Linked DNA regions of Homo sapiens: region 2 is linked to region 1. A link means that fine-mapping ties the variant in region 1 to the expression of a gene that starts in the linked region. Tissue or cell type: whole blood. Region 1 holds a variant in brackets; the other region holds the start of a gene. All regions are shown on one strand. Distances are from middle to middle.

Evidence for each region. PIP is the estimated chance that this variant, and not a neighbour inherited with it, causes the effect.
Region 2: it holds the start of GINS1, and the variant in region 1 is fine-mapped to the expression of GINS1 in whole blood (INTERVAL, PIP 0.98).

Annotation. Positions count from the first base shown.
Region 1 is chr20:25,600,604-25,608,710 of GRCh38, forward strand. No RefSeq gene overlaps it. Among named protein-coding and RNA genes, the nearest start is that of NINL, 19 kb to the left of the region's middle. RefSeq lists an enhancer at 1,477-2,676. The variant CAA/C (reference allele first, on the strand shown) is at 3,172.
Region 2 is chr20:25,402,742-25,410,848 of GRCh38, forward strand. It overlaps GINS1 (GINS complex subunit 1), which reads left to right and starts at 4,932. Exons shown (of 7, transcript NM_021067.5): 1 at 4,932-5,154. The coding sequence starts at 5,080. LOC105372581 (a long non-coding RNA gene) reads right to left here and starts at 5,554. Exons shown (of 3, transcript XR_937403.3): 1 at 5,330-5,554; 2 at 1-96. RefSeq lists enhancers at 4,974-5,223, 5,321-6,078.

The sequences.
Region 1 (8,107 bases):
ACTGTACCTATCCTGACCCACAGGTCCCTCCCTCTCCCTTGCCTTGCAGACCCACTTACTCTTCTGTCTCCACAGACTCCCTTTCTCTGTGACCATGGCTTTACCTCACTTGCCCTTTCAAGAGTTCACGCAACAGAAGAGGAATGTGCTGAGCGCACAGACCAGGAGCCCCGCGGTATTGCCTGCAGACCCAATTGGCTTGGCCTGGTGCCCAGGCGTCCTCTGGGTCATCCCCTCGTGGGTCTGCCACAGCCCACACCACTTCTGTGCCCTCCCCCAGCCTGTGTGGCTCGCCTACAGGCTGGCCTGGACCCTGTGGACATTCGTGAATGGCACTCCCAAACCAGAGCCTGTGAGTCCTGAATTCCCCGAAGAACCTGCCTTGCACAGTTGGGCTCAGTTGGAGGCGGCTGCCCACTCACTGGAGAAGTTCAGTCTGAGAAGAGGCCAAGGATAGGTTCTCTAAGAAGGAGGCTGGGACTTTAGAGGAATTGACTGCAGGAGAGACAACAGGCACCCCTGGCCGGCATCACACAGGACATTCCAGGCCTCTCTGTGTCTCTCTTCGTGTCTCTCTTCATCTCTCTCTGCTTCTCTGTCTCTGACTCTGTCTGCCTCTCTGCCACTGTCTCTGTCTCATCTCTTCATGATACTCTGCCTCTGTCTGTCTCTCTGCCACTGTCTCTGTCTTTCCCCGTCTCTCTGTCTCTGCCTCTGTCTCCCTGTCTGTCTCTGCCTCTGTCTCTCTGCTGCTCTGTCTCTCTCTCACCCAGGCAGGTTTTAATTCAATAAAGAAAGCATCTGTCCTTCACATAGTTCTTATTCAGTAACCACTACACACACACCCCTAACACAACACTGCTACACATACCACTGTCATACACACAATGTACACAAACACAACTGTATAACTCACATTCACCACAACCTCACTACTACACCCACTAAGCACACACACACAACCCTTCTAGACACACCCAGTGTGACATGCACACCCCCTACACACACCTCTCCACACACATACACAACCATCTCACACACACCTCTCCACGAACGTACATACATGCACACAGCCATCTCACACACACCTCTCCACACACCTACATACACACACACAACCATCTCACACAAACCTCTCCACGCACCTACATATACGCACACAACCATCTCACACACACCTCTCCACACACCTACATACACACACAACCATCTCACACCTCTCCACACACCTACATACATGCACACAACTATCTCACACACACCTCTCCACAAACCCTCCTTTGCCTTCACTATTCACACACCTCCACACTGCACATCCTGTTCCACACAGACCCACAGACACATGCACACAGGCTTCCCCACCTTCCTAAAATGCAGAGGACAGTGCTCTCTGACTCCAGGCCTATGTCCACAGCCCACTTTTGACAGTCCATCCTACCCATCCAAATTTCACTTCTCACCCCCCTACTCAGATCCCTCTCTGTGGAGATTGTAAACTCCTGGTTGCTTGGTACTCAGCTCCTGGCACTCAGGAGGAGCCCTCTATGCTTGTGTTGAACTGAATGAATTCTCTCCCTTCTTTGCCCCAATCAAATGTTTCATTTCCTTCAATCCTCAGCTTAGATTCATATCCCCAGTCAAGCCACTGCACAGTAGCTCCCTTATGAGACTTTGTTTCAGGAGGTGTTCATCTATATTGTACCGTATTCCTTCTTGTTTATGTACCAGGGTATCAAAATTGGAACTTTTTCTCCTCCAAAACAAAGGGTTGATTCAGGAATGGCAAGGAATTGCCATTCAGGCACACGTGCTCAGGCGGATCACAGGCCACACGTGCTCTGGCGGATCACAGGCCACACGTGCTCTGGCGGATCACAGGACACACGTGCTCTGGCGGATCTCACAGGACACACGTGCTCTGGCGGATCTCACAGGACACACGTGCTCTGGCGGATCACAGGACACACGTGCTCTGGCGGATCTCACAGGACACACGTGCTCTGGCGGATCACAGGACACACGTGCTCTGGCGGATCACAGGACACACGTGCTCTGGCGGATCTCACAGGACACACGTGCTCTGGCGGATCTCACAGGACACACGTGCTCTGGCGGATCACACAGGACACACGTGCTCTGGCGGATCTCACAGGACACACGTGCTCTGGCGGATCTCACAGGACACACGTGCTCTGGCGGATCACAGGACACACGTGCTCTGGCGGATCACAGGACACACGTGCTCTGGCGGATCTCACAGGACACACGTGCTCTGGCGGATCACAGGACACACGTGCTCTGGCGGATCTCACAGGACACACGTGCTCTGGCGGATCTCACAGGACACACGTGCTCTGGCGGATCTCACAGGACACACGTGCTCTGGCGGATCACAGGACACACGTGCTCTGGCGGATCACACAGGACACACGTGCTCTGGCAGATCTCACAGGCACAGCCTCAGAATGGAAACTTTGACCTAAGCCAGTAGACATCAGGCACCAGTTAGTGTGACACTTGTTGGAGGAGTTTTGAAATCAATCAGTCAACAACTCATTTCCTGACTTTTGAAGTCCCTTACCTATTTCAAGAATATTGCAGTGGAGAAACTGCAGATGGAAGAGGAAGGGAATTACAGGATTTCTTTGGAGAGAGAGCTACTGCAGCCTGTGGCTGCTGTTCTCTCAGGGGGTGAGAGAGGAACTCCTTCCTTCACCCAAACCCAGAGAATGGGACGACCCAGTGGTGAAATCCAGAGACAGGTTGGCATGCCTTTTCTGCAGAAAGCATGAAAGTTCAAGGGGCCTATGGCAGGGGTGGTAGGGGGCGTGAAGGATGTGGGTGGGATGTAACTCCATTCTCACTGATAAGGGGCAAGGACATGGGAGAGAGGCTGACCTGGGGTCCCTTCCAGAAGACAAAGGGGAGTCCAGTGGTGAGAACCAGTGGTGGAGGGGCCTGCCTGAGACCTAGGGCCAGAAGACAGCCCACTGGAGAAGCACAAGCTAAGCTGCAGCTGGAGGGGGTTTACCAGAGGTCTTTAAAGAGCCCCTGAAGCCAAGCCTAATAGCTCACGCATGTACTTCTAGCTCCTTGGGAGGCCAATACAGGAGGATCACTTGAGGCCAGGAGCTCAAGACCAGCTTGGGCAACATAGTGAGACCCCATCTC[CAA/C]AAAAAAAAAAAAAAAAAAAAAAAGGGAAATCAAGGTGTCAGCCGGGCAAAGAAAAAAACAGAAAACAAGAGCCCCTGAAAGTGCCCAATGGGAGGCAGGTTGGGGCTGGAGGCTATGGAGCTAACTCAAGACAAAACCAGGCTTTGGTGAGGAAGTCCCAAGCGAGAACTTACTTCCCTGCCCAGCGTCCCACCTCACCCCCAACTTGCAAAGAGGAGATGAGTGTGGAAGAAAGACGCCAACCATCCCACACCCCCACAGGGTGGCTGTGTCAGGCAGGCCTTGAGGGGGCAGGCAGGTGCAATTAGTTCTCCTTAGAGCAAAGCCCGAAGTGTGGCCGCCTCCACTGGGCTAAACCCTCCATGGGTCTGCACCAGGATGGTGTTTGTGACATCAAGTCATCACAGGACAATTTCCTAGGACTGAGCAGAAAAGGCTGGCGTCCACATCTCCCTTCAGTCCACTGCCAGGAGAAAACTTCCCACTCTGAGTAGATGTGAAAGGGATAGCAGGTGACCGAAAAGTTCATTTCCACTAAATTCCGTGGTTTATTTATTTATTTAGAGACAGAGTCTTGCTCTGTCGCCCAGGCTGGAGTGCAGTGGCAAGTTCTCAGCTCACTACAACCTCCGCCTCCCAGGTTCAAATGATTCTCCTGCCCCAGCCTCTCGCATAGCTAGGATTATAGGCATGTGCCACCACACCTATAATTTTGTATTTTTAGTAGAGATGAGGTTTCACCATGTTGGCCAAGCTTGTCTTGAATTCCTGATGCCAGGTGATGCACCTGCCAAAGTGCCTCCCAAAGTGCTGGGATTACAGGAGTGAGCCACTGCGCCTCATGGCATCCTTGTTCAGCACACTAGTTACACTCGTGTATCTAGTACATTGTTCTCTAGTTTTTATATCTGGTGTTCCAAATGTGACCCTCAAAATTTAAATACCTGCCACAGTATCTAATGCTGCCTGGGGAGTTCCCATGGGCAGGGGCAAGCATAGCATTTGGCAGACCAGGAGGGAGCAGGGCCGGCAGGGCCGGCAGCGCTGATCCACCATGGCAGGAACGTGTGCCAGTTGTTTCAGCAGTCTGGGCTTCGCTTTCCTCATTGCAGTGAAGGTTTTAGAAAACTGTTAAAAACACTGTGGACACTAACATTTTTAGTCAAAAAAACTCAGCCAGGTGCAGTGGCTCACGCCTGTAATCCCAGCACTTTGGGAAGCCGAGGAGGGCAGATCACTTGAGGTCAGGAGTTCGAGACCAGCCTGGCAAACATGGTGAAACCCCATCTCTGCTAAAAATACAAAATTAGCTGGGCGTGGTGGCAGGCGCCTATAATACCAGCTACTCTACTCAGGAGGCTGAGGCAGGAGAATCACTGGAACCCAGGAGGCGGAGGTTGCAATGAGCAGAGATCACACCATTGCACTCCAGACTGGGTGACAGAGCGACACTCTGTCTCAAAAAAATGAACAAACAAAAAACCTACCCACACAAAAAAACCCGTGGACGGATGCTGACCTCAGTATGTACTGAGCATCTGAGCTGTGTTCATCCTTCCCAGAGGGAGGGGTTTGCCCAGGAATTCCCAGAAACGAAACAGCTGTTTCCGGAGAAGCAGCATCAATATCTTATTTTAGTGGCATCTGTTGGACACTCAGTAAAGCACTGTCTGTGTTGTTTTCAAAGTTTATTTTATTATTTATTACATTTTTAAGCACAGATTTCAGGCTTGGGAGACGTACAAAGATGACACAGACATCCCTAATTATTAAGAACTTGGCCAGTATAAAAAGGTGGTAGACACCAAGGAATAAACTAGGGTTGTATTTCATAGAGGTGTCTATGGATGGACTTGTGGGGGGTTAAGGGGAATTTGGTGGACCCCTAAAATAATATGTAAATGTTTGGTTATGTGAATAGATTAATTTTGGGCGGAAGAAGGTCCATAACTTTTCCTAGATTTCTCGATTTAGCAGCGACTCAAATAAAAATCACTGGTATAAAATGAAGTAATGAGGGCTGGGCACGGTGGCTCACGCCTGTAATCCCAGCACTTTGGGAGGCTGAGGCGGGCGGATCATGAGGTCAAGAGATTAAGACCATCCTGGCCAACATGATGAAAGCCCATCTCTACTAAAAATACAAAAATTAGCTGGGCGTGGCGGTGCGCACCTGTAGTCCCAGCTACTCAGGAGGCTGAGGCAGGAGAATCGCTTGAACCCAGGAAGCAGAGGTTGTAGTGAGCCAATTGCACTCCAGCCTGGCGACAGAGTGAAACTCTGTCTCAAAAAAATAAAAAGAAAAAAGGAAGTAATGAGGCCAGGTTCAGTGGCTCACACTCTCACCTGTAATCCCAGAACTTTGGGAGGCTGAGGCAGGAGGATCATTTGAAGCCAGGAGTTTGAGATTAGCCTGGGCAACATTCCAAAGCCCTGTCTCTACAAAAAATACACAAATCAGCCAGAAGCAGTGGTGCACACCTGCAGTGCCAGCTTCTTGGGAGGTTGAGGTGGGAGGACACTTGAGCCAGGGAGGTCTAGGCTGCCTGGACCCATGTTCACAGCACTGCACTCCACCCTGGGTGATAGGGTGAGATTCTGTCTCAAAAAAAAAAAAAAAAAAAGTAACTGAACTGTAGAGCTAGAGCTAGTGGTTGAGTACATCAAATGTAGCAGCTGTTCTTCTAGACAAGAACATGAGCTCAGTGGTTTATTTCATTATCATGAATATCAGTGGAAACATAAATAATAAAGGATATCTCAGGATATACCAGAATGCCTCTTGCTTGTTCACTTTGAGGGAACATTTCCCTTCTTATCTTTACCTCACGTCTTGTCTCTCTTGGGACTATTCCCTGCCCAATTATGTAACCAAAGCAGTACCTACCTCATTCACAAGTGTAATAGTTTATTTGAGTAGCTCTTGCTAAAAGATATTAGAAAGCATGATGCAAACTGAGGCTTCAAAGTATTTATACGCTGGGGGTTGCCCAACTGGAATGCTCCTTATTGGAGCCCAGCCACCATGTTGAGAGGAAACCTAAGCTAGTCCCATGGAGAGGCTCTTGGACCACATGGAGAGCGGTCCGGTTGTTCCAGCCATCCCGTGTAATAATCCACGTTGACCCATGTCAACAGCCGGAATGAACTGCCAGCCATGTGAGTGAGGCCATTTTGCATAGTTCAGACAAGCCAGTACTCCAGGTGATGCCACAATAAGTGATTTTGTTGTTTTAATACACTAACTTTTGGGGTGTGTGTATTCTTTTTCAGCAATAGATTACCGAAACAATAAGTAATTGATTTTTTCTTTCTTTTTTTTTTTTTAAAGAGATGGGGGTCTCGCTATGTTGACCAGGCTGGTCTCAAACTCCTGTCCTCAAGTGATCCTCCCATCACAGCCTTCCAAAGTGCTGGGATTACAGGCATGAGCCATCATGCCTGGCCCAATAAGTAATTGATTTTCTATTGCTGTCTTCTAGTCCCTCTTCTACTGACTACAGCTACTTTTGCCATTTTTTCCGTTGTGTGATAGATGCTTTCAGCACTGTATTCAGTAAATAGCCTGTAGCATCCTTTTTAAAAAAAAAGCCCTTCCAAGTAAAGGCATATTTCAAACTGTATTAAGAATATTTTCTGGCTGGGCATGGTGGCTCATGCCTGTAATCCCAGCACTTTTGGGAGACCAAGGTGGGCAGATCCCTTGAGCTCAGGAGTTTGAGACCAGCCTGGTCAACATGGCAAAACCTCGTCTCTACAAAAAATACAAAAATTAGCCGGGCGTAATGGCGCTCACCTATGGTCCCAGCTACTCGGAAAGCTGCAGTGGAAGGATTGCTTGAGCCTGGGAGGTGAGGCGGCAGTGAGCCATGTTGTACCACTGCACCCCAGGGTGACAAAGTGAGACCTTGTCTCAAGAAAAAAAAAAAAAAAAAAAGGAACAGAACGTGAATATTTTCCATCATAATGACAGTCACTGCTGGAGTTTGTAAATGTACTCAAGAAAGATTTTCTTCATTAAATACATATGTCAAATAAATGGAGATTTGTGACCATTCCGTCAACTGTCATTTCTGTATCAGCTCAACAGTGTGGTACAGGTTATTAGCTGGTGCTTGGAAACAGGCACATTACAGGAAGTGAACTAGCATCATCACTGCAGTCCTCAACACAGAATTCCCATTCTGCTTTATCATGGTGCAAAGGACAAATCCGCATGTGAAAGGAAGGAAAAGTAAAATTTTAACAAAAACGAGTTGATGAGTTGCCCCTTGTTGTTAAAATTTGTTTAATTTTAATTAATTTTTATAGAAATAGCCAATAACTGCTTCATTCAACAGATATTCACTGAGTGCCTACCACGGGCCAGGAATATTCTTAAGTGCAAGATATAGCCATATCCTGAAAAAAAAGTGACATTGCTGTTACTGAGATGTGGAAGACAGCAGGAAGAGCAGATTTTTGAGAGAAATCCAGGAGTTTGGTTGGAAAGGAGTTATTTTGGTAATGTCTATTAGACATCTACGCAGAGATGCCAAGTGGGCTGAGGACACATATCTGAGAGTCCAAATTGGCTGATTTGCTTAACCTCTAAGCTTCAATAAAATGGTCAATATAATTCCTTTAAGCATTAAAAAATGTAATTTTAAACAGGAACTATTTTGAGTATTATTTCTTTAATTGTCTGGTGGTTAAAACCATTTTATCTTTTGTGACTTTTTAAAAAATTTTACTTTTTTTTACTTTTTGGGTTTAAGCGATCCTCCCGTCTCAGCTTCCCAAAGTGCTGAGATGACAGGTGTGAGCCATCATGCCTGGCTATCTTCCATGACTTTTAAAATCTGAGTATTGGCCAGGCACAGTGGCTCACACCTGTAATCCCAGCATTTTGGGAGGCCAAGGCGGATGGATTACTTGAGGTCAGGAATTTGAG
Region 2 (8,107 bases), 200 kb before region 1:
TGTCCTTGAAGTCCCTGTTTGGGCGCCACTTTGTAGAGTACCTGATTCTGTCGCTGATCGGGGGTGCCACCTGTAACCTGCATGAACCTAGGGGGACTGAACAAAGGGGGCGGTGAATGTGAGAATAAAAGACAAGAGACAAAAGAGTATATTTGAAAGAAGGGGTCAAGGGGCACCTTGCCTCTAGTGGACAAGGGCCCTGAGCTTTACACAGCCCTCCATATTTATTAGGCAAAACAGATAGTGATAAATGGGGGGGGTGATTGTCGGGTAATTGTCAGTCAGCTGTTTGGTTCACAGCAGGCTTGCGAGACTGCATCCTTTGAACAATAGGCACTAGATTTCTCCGTAGATAACTTCAAGGAGCCCGGCACCAGGGAGCGCGGCCCTCAGCCAACCTTTTGGTGGCAGGCACAGTGTGAGTTTGCTCACATCCTGCATTCTTGATAAACAGTTTGCTGTTTGATAATATAGCCTCCAGTGGAATGCTGAGTTGGTCACAATCCCTTTGGCCTTTTCAGCTCCCAACATCTGACCTGACTGCTGGCCTCTCCTATCATCAACCTGCTCCAGCATCACTGCCTCTTTGCTCATCCTCAGCCGACCTTCCTGGGGCCTTTGCAGCTTGATTCCTCTGCCTGGAATTTCCTGCCTTCCCTAAGGCCCATAACCACTTGGGTTATTTTCTCCCTGTTCAGGTCTGTGCCTTCTCTGAACACTTGAACTCAAAACCCTGACTCTTTCACCTTCACTCTATTCATCTTCTTTGGGTTATTCTTAGTGCTTTTTCACCAATATATTTCTTATCAGTGTATCTGTGTATTGCGTTTTCCCACACTGGAATGTAGACTCTGTAGAAAGGACTTTGTTTACTGCTTTATTTTCAGTATCTAGGTCAATGCCAGGCTAATACTAGTGTAAACCAAAAATAAAATCCCAAACCCTCCATCCCCTGCTGACTGGATGGACCCCTTCTGGGCCAAGGGGACCCCAGGGAAACCTGAAAAAAAACAAAAATGGAATTATCGGCTATGACAAGAAGCAAGATGGGATGCACCTTGTTGTACCCCCTCCCTTTTGGAGTATAGGTGCAACTGGCCAGCATTAACATTAAAATAAAGATCCTAAGACTCACAAACACACTCTTTGTGGCAATAAGGTCCAAACTCCAACCTGACTGATGTAGCATCACATGACAGATAGCAGACTCTGAAGGAAATCAAGATGTTTTACCCCAAAATATATTTCTTTGAAATATTTTGAAATGGCCCTGGAAAGCCATCTTTTGTGTGGGGAATTTGCATCTGTTAAGAATCTCCGTTAATGCAGCCAGGTCTTTCCTGAATCTAGGAGAGGTTAAACAAGAGTTTAACACACCTTTTAAGATCCAAAAAGAGACATTTACCATCAATTCTTTCAGAAGGCTGCTGCCTATGAGGCTTCATCCACATAACAAGAAACTTGGTCTCCACAACCTCCCCCTTAACTCAATAATTTCCTTCTATTGACAGTCTTTAGACAAAACTTGACTCAACCAATTGCTAATCAGAAAATCTGTAAGCTCCCTGCTTCAAGATATCCCACCTTTTTAGGCTGAACAAAAGTACACCTTCCATGTGTTGATTTATGATTTTACCTATAATTCCTGTCTCCCTAAAATACATAAAACCAACCTGTAACCTGTAACTGCACTGCCTCAGGCACGCTTTCTCAGGACCTCTTGAGGCTGTTCCTGGGCCATGGTCACTCATTGGCTCAGAATAAATCTCTTTAAATATTTTAGAGTTTGGTTTTAACTTCAACACTAGGCATTTCATAAATATTTGCAGAAGGTATGACTGAATCATCTTAACTCCTTAGAGGTGGTTCCACTGTTCTCATTCTACTGTTAAGGAAGTGAGTCTTGGGGTCATTAATGAACTTTGCCTCTGGGCTGAAATTAAAAAGGCCTATGGCTGAGGAGGGTAGTGCATGCTGGTCTTTGATTCAGTCCTGCAGCATAGTCCAGTCTAGAGTTGTGTATTTGGGAAAAACACCTAGATAAACTATTCCTTACTGTAGAGATGAAAATATAATTGCCCAAGGGATTCTCCTTGTCCACTGCCCAGACAGAGCTGATTTATCAAGACAGGGGAGTTGCAATAGAGAAAGAGTTTTTTGGTTTTTTGTTTGTTTGTTTGTTTGTTTGTTTTTTGAGACAGAGTCTTGCTCTGTCGCTCAGGCTGGAGCTCAATGGCACAATCTCAGCTCATTGCAACCTCCGCCTCCAGTGTTCAAGTGATTCTCCTGCCTCAGCCTCCCAAGTAGCTGGGATTACAGGCATGTGCCACCAGGCCCAGCTAATTTTTTTTTTTTTTTTTTTGAGACAGAGTCTCACTCTGTCACCCAGGCTGGAGTGCAGTGGTGAGATCTCGGCCCACTGCAACCTCCACCTCCTGGGTTCAAGCAATTCTCCTTCCTCAGCCTCCTGAGTAGCTGGGATTACAGGCGTGTGCCACCATGTTCAGCTAATTTTTTTGTATTTTTAGTAGAGATGGGGTTTCGCTGTGTTGGCCAGGCTGGTTTTGAACTTCTGACCTCAGGTCATCCACCTTGGCCTCCCAAAGTGCTGGGATTACAGGTGTGAGCCACCATGCCCGGACAGGCTAATTTTTGCATTTTTAGTATAGATGGGGTTTCACCATGTTGGCCAGACTGGTCTCGAACTCCTGACCTCAGGTGATCCACCCGCCTCAGTCTCCCAGTGTGCTGGGATTACAGGCGTGAGCCACTGGGCCTGGCTGAGAAAGAGTTTAATTCACGCAGACCCAGCTGTACAGGAGACTGGAGTTTTATTATCGCTCAAATCAGTCTCCTAGAAAACTCCAAGATAGGGATTTTAAAGGATAATTTAGTGGGTAGGGGGTCACAAAGTGAGGGGTGCTGATTGGTTGGATGAGAGATAAAATCATAGAGAGTCAAAGCTGTCCTCTTGGGCTGAGTCAGTTCTTGGGTGGGGACCACAAGACCAGATGAGCCAGTTTATCGATCTGGGTGGTGCCAGCTGATCCCATCAAGTGCAGGGTCTACAAAATATCTCAAGCACTGGTCTTAGGTTTTATAATAGTGCTGCTATCCCTAGGAGCACTTGGGGAGGTTTTAGAATCTTGTAGCCTCCCGCTGCGAGACTCGTAAATTTCTAGTCTTGTGGCTACTCTGTTACTCCTGCAAAGGCAATCTAGTCCCCAGACAAAAAGGGTTTCGCTTTGGTAAAGGGCTAAGTATTTGTTTCAAAATTAAACTATAAACTAAGTTTCTCCCCAAGTTAATTCGCCCTAAGCCCAGGAATGAACAAGGATGGCTTGGCGGTTAGAAGCAAGATGGAGCCAGTTAGGTCAGATCTCTTTCACTGTAATAATTTTCTCTATTATAATTTTTTCAAAGGCGGTTTCAAAAAGGCAATGTTTGCTGGGTGCGGTGGCTCACGCTGTAATTCCAGCACTTTGGGAGGCCCAGGCGGACGGATCCCTTGAGCTCAAGAGTTGTCGACCAGACTGGCCAACATGGTGAAACCCTGTCTCTACTTAAAATACAAAATAGCCAGGTGTGGTGGCCTGAGCCTGTAGTCCCAGCTACTCAGAGGGCTGAGGGGGGAAAATTACCTCAGCCCGGGAAGTGGAGGCTGCAGTGAGCTGAGATGGCGCCACTGCACTCCACCTGGGTAACGGGAGTTAAGACCCTGTCTCCAAAAAAAAAAGGCAATGTCATTATTCAACATAAGCCTGAGTAGGCCATTCCCATGCCCATTCCTTAGATGACATATCTACTGTATATTTGCAAAAGATCAACATAGTTTCTAGGGTTAGCTAGAATTAATCCAAGATTGCGCCGGTTGCGGTGGCTCATGCCTGTAATCCCAGCACTTTGGGAGGCCGAGGTGGGCGGATCACGAGGTCAGGAAATTGAGACCGTCCTGGCTAACACGGTGAAACCCCGTCTATACTTAAAAAATTCAAAAAATTAGCTGGGCGTGGTGGCGGGCGCCTGTAGTCCCAGCTACTCGGGAGGCTGAGGCAGGAGAATGGCGTGAACCCGGGAGGCGGAGCTTACAGTGAGCCGAGTTCGCGCCACTGCACTCCAGCCTGGGCGACAGAGCGAGACTCCATCTCAAAAAAAAAAAAATCCAAGATTGCTTGTTAGAAATTAACATTGCTTTTTGAAAAATTGCCTAATAAAACAATTCTTTAGCAGTGATTCCCATCTTCCATATGCTTAAGAAATATTCCATAACCATCTAGCCAAGAAAATTCCTAGTGAATTCGTATTAATCTAGGGCAGATATTACAAATATTTTTAAAAGACTATTTTAAAATCAAAGGGTGGTACTGTGGTGTTGGAAATGGAAAGCCTAAATAACAGTCTAATCACTCTGGAGCTGTGTGACCTTGGGCAAGTTACCTAACTTCTGTTTCCTTATTAATCCCGGGTCTTAAAACACTTCAGAGATAATTGTGGGAATGAAATACACACTGCAGTCCCTACCAGCACTAGGTACCCAATAAAAGAGAGTTTCATTTTAATATCAAACAGAAAACCCGCACTGCAAAACTGAAACCCTTGCGTCCTACCAATGCACACCAAGTTTTTGGGCCTTTCCTCTTAACCTCAAAGTGCTCTTTTCTTGAACCTAAACGAGAATGAATGAATCAAAAGGAAAATGACAAGGAAGCTGCGGGGCGTGCATTTATTTCCAGCTCTGCTGCCCGTAGAGTCCCCCGGCCCACTGCCTGAGAACTGGAAAAGCCGTCTCTGCTCAGCCGAGGGGTTCTGCCATCTCCGGGGCGGGGACCTCACCTTGGAAAGACCCCTCCCACTCCGCCCCTCTTGGAATGCGGCTGAGCGGTGGATGTCCCTTTTCGGGCGCCGTAGGCGCGTTCCTATTGGCTAGCTTTGTTCGGCGCCAAAGCGCGGAGCGGAGGCCGAGGCGAGAGCCTGGCGCTGTAGGACTAGAACGAAAGGAGTGAGGCGCCGAGAGCCCAGATACCATTTTGGCGTGAGAGCTGGTGGTTGGCAAGGCCGCGGGAGTGGGAAGCGTCCGCCATGTTCTGCGAAAAAGCCATGGAACTGATCCGCGAGCTGCATCGCGCGCCCGAAGGGCAACTGCCTGCCTTCAACGTGAGGGGCGGGTAGACTTGGACGGGGCATGCCGGCGTTGGGCCCTGGGCTCTGGGGCGGGGCGGCTCCCCGTCAGGGTTCACTTTCGCACCTTGTTCCCTCCGAGCTCCGGAAAACTTGGGAAGCAGCAAAACAAAATTCAGGAGGAAAGAGAAAGCATTCATGCTTACGCTACCCAGCGATTTGGTGAATTTCCTCATCTGAGCAAATTTTGCATTTTAGCAGTTTTCCTTGGACAGATTTGTTCCGGTCCCTTAAAATATTTACAGGTTGCCTGATAATTTAGCATTTCTTGCTCACTCAGGCATCTAATCGTGGTCAGTAAAAGCTAGGCCTCTGGAACCTGGCTGAGATTCTGGTTCTGTAGTGTGACTTTGGGGCAGTTACTCAAGCTTTCTGTGCTCTCAGTTTTCTCATACGCAAAAATGGGGATGGTGACAATAATAGTACCCAACGCATGATGTAGTGGACGCAAAATGAGTGGCATGTGTAAGGGTCTCTGCATATGCCTCACATACAGTAAGGGCTGAGTCAGTGTTAGCTATTAATATTACTTTTCTCCTGCTGCTGCTGTTACTATTAATATTATGATTATTTGTATTTTTCTATCACTGCTACCCCAGGGAGAGTGCTAAGCACTTCATGTACATTATCTTTTGTCTTTCTAATAACCCTTTGAGGGCCCGGTACCATGGCTCCTGCCTGTAATCCCAGCACTTTGGGAGGCTGAGGCGGGAGGATCGCTTGATCCTGCCACTGCATTCCAGCCTGAGTGACAGGGAGACCCTGTCCCAAACAAAACAAAAATAACTTTTTGATGTTTAAACTATTGTTTTCTACTTTTTTCAGCTATATATGCATAGGATTGGGGAGATTTAAGTATATTGCCTAAGGTGACACAGCAAGAAAGCTAGGATTTGAACCCTGGCACTCTGGCTCCAGAGCCTGCACTCTAAATTGTATATTTCACTTACGTCATAGAGCAGGCATTATGTGGATGTCAGGACACATTCTGCTGGAAGATGGGCACAAAAACAGATAATAGAATTCACCACGCTAAGTGATACTAAGGAGGTATAGCAAGGAGCACGAAGGAGAAACACCAGTATGAGCTGGGGTAGAAGAGGTGATATATGAGCCTTTCCATCCTCAAGGATGAGGTTACTGATCTGAGAAGGAAGCGAGGCATCCCAGCCAAAGGATGCTGCAGCACAAAGTCACGTGGTCACACTGGAGAGGGTGACCAATAGGGCCTGTGGGGAGTCTAGGAAGGTGGCTCACAGCCTACATGAATTTGTTGTTCACTTATAAGGCATGCTGGGAGCTGGTAGAGGATTTTAGACAAGGAAGTGATAGGGTAATTTTTGTGTTTTGAAGGTAACTGCGGCAGCAATATGGGGAATGGATTGAAGAGAGGAAAGAATGGGACAGGGAGATGGCTACTGGGTGGCTGATAGAGCAGGTGAGAGGTGTGTGGTCTGAACTGTGTCAGGTCAGTGGCACTGAGATCAGTGTTTGGGTTTTAGAGACATGAAGCAAACATGACTTGTAGCTATTAGAGCAGGGGCAGAGATGGGGTCCATAATGAATAAGAGGGAGGAATTGGGATCTTGGAGGATCCTTAGGAAACTGGGTAAACAACATCAGAGTTCAGGAGATAGAGTGTGTTGGGAAAGGTAATGAGTTTTGTTTTGAACACTAAAGAGCACCTAGCCAGACAATTAGATTGTCTTACAAATGAAGAAACTGAGCTGACACAAATTATGGGTCAAGTTAAGGAACTCGTCTGAATTTACAGCATATTGGAGGTAGAGCTTCAACTTGAACACAGGTTTTCCAGTTTCTAGTCAATTGTTTTTTCAACTTCAGAGCAGTTACCTCATTTAAAAAGTTAGGCAGCAGTCTGCAGCTCAGTAGAGATGCTTGAATGCAGAAGTGTGTAAATGCTAAAATGTGGCCTGAGAACTAGGAACTTTAGAGGTCATTGTACATATCAGGACACAGGCCTAGAGAACAGAGAGACTGTGCAAACAGGTGCGGCCAAGCTGGATTTTGGACCTGACTCTGACACTTAGTTTAGCTCTCTGTTTTACTCAAATTTTAAGTTAAGTGTTGGGTTATCACTTTGTGGGGCTAGGGGCTGGTCTTAGAAGTTGTAGAATCAGGCCAGGAGTGGTGGCTCACGCCTGTAATCCCCCCACTTTGGGAGGCTGAGGCGGGCGGATTACAGGGTCCTGAGATTGAGACCATCCTGGCTAACATGGTGAAACCCCGTATCTACTAAAAATACAAAAAATTAGCCAGGCGTGGTGGGATGTGCCTGTAGTCCCAGCTACTCGGAAGGCTGAGGCAGGAGAATGGCTTGAATCTGGGAGGCGGAGGTTGCAGTGAGCCAAGATCGGGTCACTGCACTACAGCCTGGGCGACAGAGAGAGACTCCGCCTCAAAAAAAAAAAAAAGTTGTAGAATCACTGTCTTGTAGGTCTTAATTTGGTGGAGCACCTTTTGTCTCACTAGTGCCTTCCACTGACAAACCCACCTGATACTCAAGGTGATCCAGCAGCCTGGAACACTTAGTCAGCCTGCAGAGGCTGGCCTCCGACTCAGCGGCACAGAGGAAGGCTGACAGTGGATCTGAGAGGCCCAAGGACCACACAGGCTTTTCTCTTTTTTTTATTGTTTTGAGATGGGAGTTTCGCTCCTGTGGCCCAGGCTGGAGTGCAATGGTGTGATCTCGGCTCACTGCAACCTCCGCCTTCTGGGTTAAGCAATTCTCCTGCCTCAGCTTCCCTAGTAGCTGGGATTACAGGCGCCTGCCACCATGCCCAGATAATTTTATGTATTTTTAGTAGAGATGGGGTTTCACTATTTTGGCCGGGCTGGTCTCGAACTCCTGACCTCAGGCGATCCACCCACCTCAGCCTCCCAAAGTGCTGGGATTATAGGCGTGAGC